Regions from separate parts of the Homo sapiens genome. Here all the other regions are linked to region 1. The links come from fine-mapping of genetic effects on gene expression. A gene starts in region 1. Each other region holds a variant in brackets. All regions are shown on one strand. Distances are from middle to middle.

Region 1 (2,500 bases):
CACAAAGTATGGATAATTCTGAAAGTTATATTTTATAAAGAATAATCTATCCATGATTAAGCTACTGCAGAACTGCAGATGAGAAAAGGTGATGGACTGTCCTAGGTAGTGGCAAGGGAAACAGGAGTGAAAGAATTTCAGGAACATTTCAGAGATGGAGCTCAGAGTACTTGATGATTTATTAGAGACTCTTGGAATACAGTATTAGTAGGATTTACTGTGTCAGTTTAGCTATTTATCCATTAACAGTAACAATAGTAGGAAACACATACTGTTTACCATAGGTCAAGCAATGTTGTAAACATTTTACATGGATTAACTCATTTCATTCTCACAACACTATGAAGTATATTTATAACCATCCCCATTTTAGAGATGATAAACTAAGGCTTACATCAGTTAAGTTAGCCAATAAGTATCAAGAATCAGTAAGAGGTTAGATACAAGATTTAGACCCAGATACTGTAATTCCAAAGCTAAAGAGCTCTTAATTGATCAACTAAATAGTTGTAAAGGAAAGTAAACAAAGTCGAAAGCAGGCAGAATGTAGTAATGTCAAGAGCCCGGTTTAATGAAGAGCCACAGTGGGGGAAGAGGATAGCAGTTTGGCTGCTCAAAATCACATGAGGTGTTCATAAAAAATAAATAAATAAATAAAATAAATCTGTATTAAATCCAAATCCCTGCAGATGGGAGATAAGATTTAACTTTTTATTTTCTTTTTTTTTTTTTTTTTTAAAGCCCTGGGTAATTTTGTGGCGGAACCAAGTTTGGGAACCTGTGTAATAAAAGATTTCTAAGGGCTCTTCCTGCTTTAACATTCTAGTTGACATTGTAAATGAAGTTCCCAGAAATCAAAGGAGCGAGGGAGGGATCCTAGCTGCAGGAAAACGGCTATGCATTCAGAGTCCACACCGTTTATGCTCCCATTTTACTAAACGGTCCCTCATAGGGGGAGGGATAGAACAGGCAACGGAAAGAAGGATGTGGTATCCACGATAAGCAGGCTAAAAAAGCAGGCTTTTAAAAAGGCTTTTCTAGCACGATTTGCACAAAGAACCCCTTCTTGACTATATATATTTGTGTTCATCCAACTGGATTTTGAGGTGGATTCCTCAGACCCGTATCTGGCTAATGATGGATTTCAATATATTTTCTCTAAGCACCCCGAAGCGTTGCACGAAACCTCTAGGTTGTGGCCTGCCCGCCCCGAGGCCAGGTGAATCCGGCTCAGCAGCAGAGGTGTCTGCAATTACACCCTCTAATCCCCTACTGTCAGATATGACCCTTTCCGCACATACCTGAGGGCCCTCTGGTAAGATTGATCTCTTCCTCAGTGACCAAATAATCCACTCTTCCGTTCATGTTTTACAGCTCGTCTGGCTTCCTACTTGGGTCAGCTGGAGTGCAGCACAGGTGAAGGTGAATCAATCTCGGCGCTGCGCCCACAGCACAGCGGTTTCGGTTTCAGCAGCCTCGAGACCCGGAAAAGGAAGCCCGAAGGACTCGGAGCACTGGGAATGCTGGGAATCGTGGTTCCTACCGCCAATGGATTGCAGTTTCTCACCGGTTCCCAAAGCCAAGCATGAGGTGAGCAAGGGGCAAGTTACCATTCTAATTTGCCATTGGAAGCAAGTGGGAAGGGGGTGGCTAGTAAAAGTAAGGGACCTAAATAAATTGATATTGTCGAGAAAAAAAATTTTAAAAAAATCTCCTGCCATCCTAGAAAATCTCCACAAATGTAGAAAAGAAAAAAAAGGTGTATTATTCTGTAAGCATCGAACCAGACCGGAATGGGTGTTACAGGCAATCCACTAATGAGATTGCAAAGAGAGACAAAAATCTCACATTTTATGTAGCCAAAGCACACGCATCTTCTCATGTAAGACGAGTTAACATGGTTTGGTATTCAATTTTTGGTAGTTCACCGTTGGAGTGGCCGCCTGTGTTGGTTAATTGCCTTTATCCAAAGGAAAAATAAAACGTTATCTCTGTGACAAACAGGTACTTACGGCTTGGAGCAAGGCGCTTCGGGTAACTCCCGCGAGCCTGGAACATAGGGGCACTGTCTACCTTGATACTTAAATTTCAAGGAGTTGGCTCCCGGGACCTGACGAAAACAATTCCTGGGTTTTATCTGACAAGAGGCTTATTTAGCTTTTAAAAAGATACACACACACACACACACTACACACGGATTATAATTACAATTTGCTCAAGAAAATGTTTTAAGAAAGGGGGGTGGGGGAATGTCTCATTCTTTTGGCAACTGGGAAAATTCAATCTTTTTAATGTTTTAACTCTTACAATAAGGTTAACGCATGGCTTAGGTATAACTTTAGGCCAGTCTTCCTGACTTTTGGAATGAGACATTCCAAACTGAACTTGAATGAAACTTCAGGGGTCAAAAACACAAAAGCCTAAAGAGCCAGGAAGGTGACAACCTTGTGAAGCAACCTGGAGTTAGACCACAGGGATTGGTGGGGATCTTAGAGGACTA
Region 2 (2,852 bases), 75 kb after region 1:
TTCCCCATTGTCTTGGCTATGAACATTTGGCTCCTCTTTACTTATGCAAATTTCTGCAGCCAGCTTGGGCTTAAATTCCTCCGCTGAAAATGAGTTTTTCTTTTCTACCACATAGCCAGGCTGCAATTTTCCACACTTTCATGCTCTGCTTCCTTTTAAATATAAGTTCAAGTTTCAATTCATTTCAGTGCTTATGCAAATGAGCATAAGCTTTTAGAAGCAGCCAGGCCACAGCTTGAATGCTTTGTTACTTAGAAATTTCTTCCGCCTGGCCAGACACGGTGGCTCATGCCTATAATCTCAGCATTTTGGGAGGCTAAGGTGGGTAGGTCGCTTTGAGCTCAGGAGTTTGAGACCAGCCTGGGCAACACAGCAAAATCCTTTCTCTATAAAGAATATAAAAATTAGCTCTGTGTGATGGTGTGAACCTGTAGGCCCAGCTATTTGGGAGGCTGAGGCTGGAGAATTGCTTGAGCCTGGGAAGCAGAGGTTGCAGTGACTGAGATCACGCAACTGCATGCTAGCCTGGGTGACAGAGTGAGACCCTGTCTTATAAAAAAAAATTTCTTTTGCCAGATAACGTAAATCATCTCTGTCAAGTTCAAAGTTCCACAGGTCTCTAGAGCAGGGGCACAATGCCACCAGTCTCTTTGCTAAAGCAGAACAAGAGTGACCTTTATCCCAGTTCCCAATAAGTTCCTCATCTCCATTTGAGACCTCCTCAGTCCAGACTTCACTGTCCATATCTGTATTAGTCCATTCTCACACTACTATAAAGATACAACCTGAGACTAGGTAATTTATAAAGGAAAGAGGTTTAATTGACTCACAGTTCTGCAGGCTTAGCAGGAAGCATGGTTAGGAGGCCTCAGGAAACTTACAATCATGGTGGAGGACTAAGGGAAAGCAAGCACATCTTACATGGTGGCAGGCAAGAAGCATGAGAGCCATGGAAACGTCTACTTATAAAACCATCAGATCTCGTAAGAACTCACTATCATGAGAAAAGCATGGGGGAACCACCCCCATCATCCAGTCACCTCCCACCAGGTCCTTTCCTCAACACATGGGGATTACAATTTGGATTACAATTCAAGATAAGATTTGGGTGGGGACACAGAGCCAAACCATATCATTCTGCCCTGTCCTTTCCCAAATCTCATGTCCTAACATTCCAAAACCAATCATGCCTTCCCAACAATACTCCGAAGTCTTAATTCATTCCAGCATTAACTCAAAAGTCCAAATCCATAGTCTCATCTAGTAAAACCAAAAACAAGTTAGTTACTTCCAAGATACAGTTGGGGTACAGGCATTGGTTAAATGTTCCCATTCCAAATGAGAGAAATTGGCCAAAATAAAGGAGCTACAAGACCCATGCAAGTTCAAAACCCAGAGTGTCTGTGGCTTTTTCAG[T/G]TACACAGTGCAAGCTGTCAGTGGGTCTGGGGTCTGGAGGATGGTGGCCCTCTTGTCACAGCTGCACTAGGAAGTGCCCCAGTGGGGACTCTGCATGGGGGCTGCAACCCCACATTTCTCTTCGGCACTGACCTAGCAGAGGTTCTCCATGAGGGCTCCACTCCTGCAGCAGACTTCTGCCTGGACTTCCAGGCATTTCCATACATCCTCTAAAATATAGTTGGAGGTTCCCAAACCTCAGCTCTTGCCTTCTGTGCATCCACAGGCCCAACACCATGTGGAAACTGCCAAGGCTTGGGGCTTGCACCCTCTGAAGCAATGCTAAGCCATACCTTGGCCCCTTTTAGCCACTGCTAAGGCTGGAGTGGCTGGGACATGGAGCACCAAGTCCCGAGGCTGCACAAAGCAGCAGGTCCCTGGCCTGGCGCACAAAACCATTTTTCCCTCTTAGGCCTCCAGGCCTGTGACGGGAGAAGCTTCCCAGTAGGTTTCTGACATGCCTTGGAGACATTTTCCCCATTGTCTTGGCTATTAACATTTGGCTCCTCATTACGTATGTAAATTTCTGCAGCCATCTTGACTTTCTTTCCAGAAAATGGGTTTTACTTTTATACCACATGGTCAGACTGCAAATTTTCCAAACTTTTATGTTCTGATTTCCTTTTAAACATAAGTTCCTCATCTCCATCTGAGACCAGCTCAACCTGGACTTCATTGTACATATCACTATCAACATTTTGGTCAAAACCATTCAGTAAGTCTCTAGGAAGCTCCAAACTTTCCCACATCTTCCTGTCTTCTTCTGAGCTCTCCAAACTGTTCCAACCTCTGCCCATTACCCAGTTCCAAAGTTGCTTCCACACTTTCAGGTTATCTTTATAGCAGTACCCTATTCTACCAGTACCCATTTACTGTATTAGTCCATTATCCCATTGCTTTAAAGATACTACCTGAGACTGGGTAATTTATAAAGGAAAGAGGTTTAATTCAGTCACAGTTCTGCAGGATTAATAGGAAGCATGGATAGGAGGCCTTAGGAAACTTATAATCATGGCAGAAGGGGAAGGGGAAGCAAGCACGTCTTACGTGGGGGCAGGTGAGAGATGCAAGAGCAGGGGAAGCTTCTACTTATAAAACCATCAAGTCTTGTGAGAACTCACTATTATGAGAACAAGATTGAACCATGGGCCAGGCATAGTGGTTCATGCTTGTAATCCCAGTACTTTGAGAGGCCAAGGTGGGTGGATCACTTGAGGCCAGGAGTTCGAGACCAACCTGGCCAACATGGTGAAATCCTGTCTCTACTAAAAGTACAAAAAATTAGCCAGGCATGGTGGCACGTGCCTGTAACCCCAACTACTTGGGTGGCTGAGGCACAATAATTGCTTGAGCCTAGGAGGTGGAGGTTGCAGTGAGCTGAGACCACACCACTGCAC
Region 3 (2,852 bases), 310 kb after region 1:
GAGGGAGGGAGGTCTCCAATGTGGGGACCACAGAGGCAAGAGAGTTCATGAAAAGTCAGGTCTAGATGTCCTTGGGGTATCTCATTGTGTCCCTGAGCAACAGTAGCCTGAGGGAAAGGGGGCTTAGTGACCATGACACATGTCCCAAGAACAAGGGGACCCTTTTCCAAAGATTCTTCCAGGAACTGGGATGATCCCAGGCTCTAAACAAATCAGACTGATGACCCCAAGAAATGAGAGACAGCCAACTGTCACTCTGATGTTGCTACCAACCTCCCTCTCTCATTTCCTTCTCTGTAAGACACAACCTCCCTCTCCCATTTCCTTCTCTGTAAGACACAAGTGGTGAGGATGACATTGGCAGACAGCATCAGACAAGTTAAGTGGGGGAATTAGGAAAGAATGCTTGTCAACACCAGATGCTATATAAATGCGGCAGAAGGGCATGGGCCCGACCAGGGCCCCCATTAGTCATGCTCAACCACCTCCAAATCACTCCTCTTCCAGAAGCCAAAGGACGAAAGAAAAGGCAAGTTCCCTCAAGGCAAAGGTGATGAGAGCCACACTCTCAACTTCAGCGATTCATCCTGTATAGATGAAAGAAGCTTCCTCTAGGAGCTGGCAAGGAGCTATGGTGTTTCACTGACCTTCTCTGATACATACACCCAACTCCCTTGAGAGGAAAGCATGTGATGATTGCTTTTAAAGGAAGGAAATCTGAGAGGGGCTAAAGAGACAAGCCTATGGCCACACAGCAAAAGCAGAATGGGGAATGCAGCCAACCTGTTCAGTTCTGAGCCCAGTGGCCTCACTCAGCAATTAGTCCAAGCCACTTTTTCATTTCTCTTCACTTGAATTTTCATCTTTAAGCATTTCCCCTTCTCTACTAGCAAGGGTATCAAATGTACAAGGAAAATGATGTCATTTTGCAAAGGTCAGGAGGAAAAGTTAGCACTATTCTGAGTTGTCCAGATGTAAGATATCATTGTTGCTATTACTGCTACCACCAGACCCTAGGGATGCCACAGGATGCCAAGTGAAGAGGATCCGCCAAAGCCTCTCAGAAATAACATACAGATAACTGAGGTATCTACTCAGCCTCCTGGCAGCAGTCTGGATCCCCAAGAGGGTCAAAAGGGGATAATCCGAATCAGCGGTAGGAGCTGAAGAATCCAAGAAGCAGGGGCAGAGAGCAGTATCTGTTCCTATTACCATCTTCCATGAAGTTAGCA[C/T]CTGCCAAGAGCAGAAGGAACGTGTCTTTGTGCAAAGGGAAGGCAGAGGAAAGGGGGGCCGGCTACTGCCACTCAAGTGGCTTCATCCACAGCTCCAGGGCCTGCTCCCGACCAGGACCACAGAACAAGGGAACCTGAGCGAATAGAAAGCCACTGAGACCTGCTACTACTATACAGATCCTTAGCCCATCTCCAACCTTGCCCCACTGAGAGAGTGCAGCAGTCAGGGGCCCATCAGAGACCAGGTGTGTAGGAGCTGAGAGATGGTAACTGTTCCTTCTTCATGGATGCTCACAGTAGCACCTTTGGATAGCCCTGCTTTTGCTTCTTTCAGGTACAATTATTTCCTTAGCAAAGACCCAGGCTTGCTTTATCTTTCCCCACAGTGGACAAGTAAGGATGGCACTCAACCTCTCACTCAATGGCAGGTGACCATCATTCAGTTACACTACATCAGTTACACTACATCTAGAAAGATGGCTGCAACCTACCACAATGGCAAAAGTTAAAAATGAGCAAAGGAAAAATCTCTGCTTCATACCACAGAGCACTGTGTATAGGCAGCATGGTTTGGAGGGCCACAAGAGGGCCATTTAGTGGAGCCAAGGATATACAGATGTGCTCATGGTTTAGCCTGAGGTTATGGAGGGCCCGGGGGAAGGAGGCCACAGAACAGACTTTTTTTTTTTTTTTTTTTTTTTTTGAGACAGAGTTTCTCTCTTGTTGCCCAGGCTGGAGTGCAATGGCGCAATCTTGGCTCACTGCAACCTCCGCCTCCCAGGTTCAAGCGATTCTCCTGCCTCAGCCTTGCGAGTAGCTGGGATTACAGGCACGTGCCACCATGCCTGGCTAATTTTTTTGTATTTTTAGTAGAGACAGGATATCTCCATGTTGGTCAGGCTGGTCTCGAACTCCCGACCTCAGGTGATCCACCTGCCTCTGCCTCCCAAAGCGCTGGGATTACAGGCGTGAGCCACCGCGCCCTGTCAGAACAAACTTTGTATGTACTTCTCCCCATCAAGAATGAAGAAGAATCACTTGGTTGGCTGGAACTGCTGGTAAGATTCACATTTTTTCCTCCTAGCTCAGGAGTAGGGGAATGGGGACAAAAACAGTATCTTACATATTGGCTTCACTGAACAAAGAGAAGGACACAGAAGAGAAGCAATAACAAAACCTTGGGCAATAAAACCAGTAGCGCCTTCCCGTCCAAGACTTGGTGGGCCCCTTGAACCAAAGTGCTAATGGGCTCATAAAGCAAGGAACAAGGTCACCCCTTTAGTGACCCCAAGGCAGGACATCTATCCCAGTTATAGAGAAAGAGCAGTGACCAATTCATCACTGTTGCCAGCTGCACATCCAGGCAGCAAATGCAAGGAACCTGCTGAGTGACCTCCAAGACAAAAGACAGTGGAGCAGCATTCAGAGAGTCTTGAGGGAAGAGGGGAATGACCTTGAGACTCTACTCCCAATCAAGTCGTCATTCCCACATAAAGACAACTGTTCACACATAACACAGGAGGCCTCAGAGTAGTGGCATGGAGAAGACATACACGAGAAAGCTTTAGAGGAAGCTCAACATTCAAGTTAAGGAAACAACTTCCAGGAAGGTCAGGGTTG

Direction of the effects. Positions count from the first base shown, and alleles are read on the strand shown. Sizes are in standard deviations (SD) of each study's normalised expression. Not every link is listed here.
For the expression in breast of the gene that starts at base 1,492 in region 1, G is the low allele of the variant in region 2 and T is the other (small effect, 0.23 SD a copy in GTEx).

The links. PIP is the estimated chance that this variant, and not a neighbour inherited with it, causes the effect.
Region 2: its variant is the best candidate, but not a certain one, in a credible set for the expression of SYNJ2BP in breast (GTEx, PIP 0.84).
Region 3: its variant is the best candidate, but not a certain one, in a credible set for the expression of SYNJ2BP in whole blood (TOPMed, PIP 0.61).

What each region holds. Positions count from the first base shown.
Region 1 is chr14:70,415,599-70,418,098 of GRCh38, forward strand. It overlaps SYNJ2BP (synaptojanin 2 binding protein), which reads right to left and starts at 1,492. Exons shown (of 4, transcript NM_018373.3): 1 at 1,302-1,492. The coding sequence starts at 1,365. SYNJ2BP-COX16 (SYNJ2BP-COX16 readthrough) reads right to left here and starts at 1,492. Exons shown (of 5, transcript NM_001202549.2): 1 at 1,302-1,492. The coding sequence starts at 1,365. LOC124903339 (a long non-coding RNA gene) reads left to right here and starts at 1,487. Exons shown (of 2, transcript XR_007064237.1): 1 at 1,487-1,590. RefSeq lists enhancers at 1,268-1,347, 1,279-2,478, 1,458-1,567.
Region 2 is chr14:70,489,976-70,492,827 of GRCh38, forward strand. No RefSeq gene overlaps it. Among named protein-coding and RNA genes, the nearest start is that of ADAM21, 39 kb to the left of the region's middle. The variant T/G (reference allele first, on the strand shown) is at 1,417.
Region 3 is chr14:70,726,204-70,729,055 of GRCh38, forward strand. It overlaps MAP3K9 (mitogen-activated protein kinase kinase kinase 9), which reads right to left. Exons shown (of 12, transcript NM_001284230.2): 12 at 1-2,852. Among named protein-coding and RNA genes, the nearest start is that of LINC01269, 29 kb to the left of the region's middle. The variant C/T (reference allele first, on the strand shown) is at 1,233.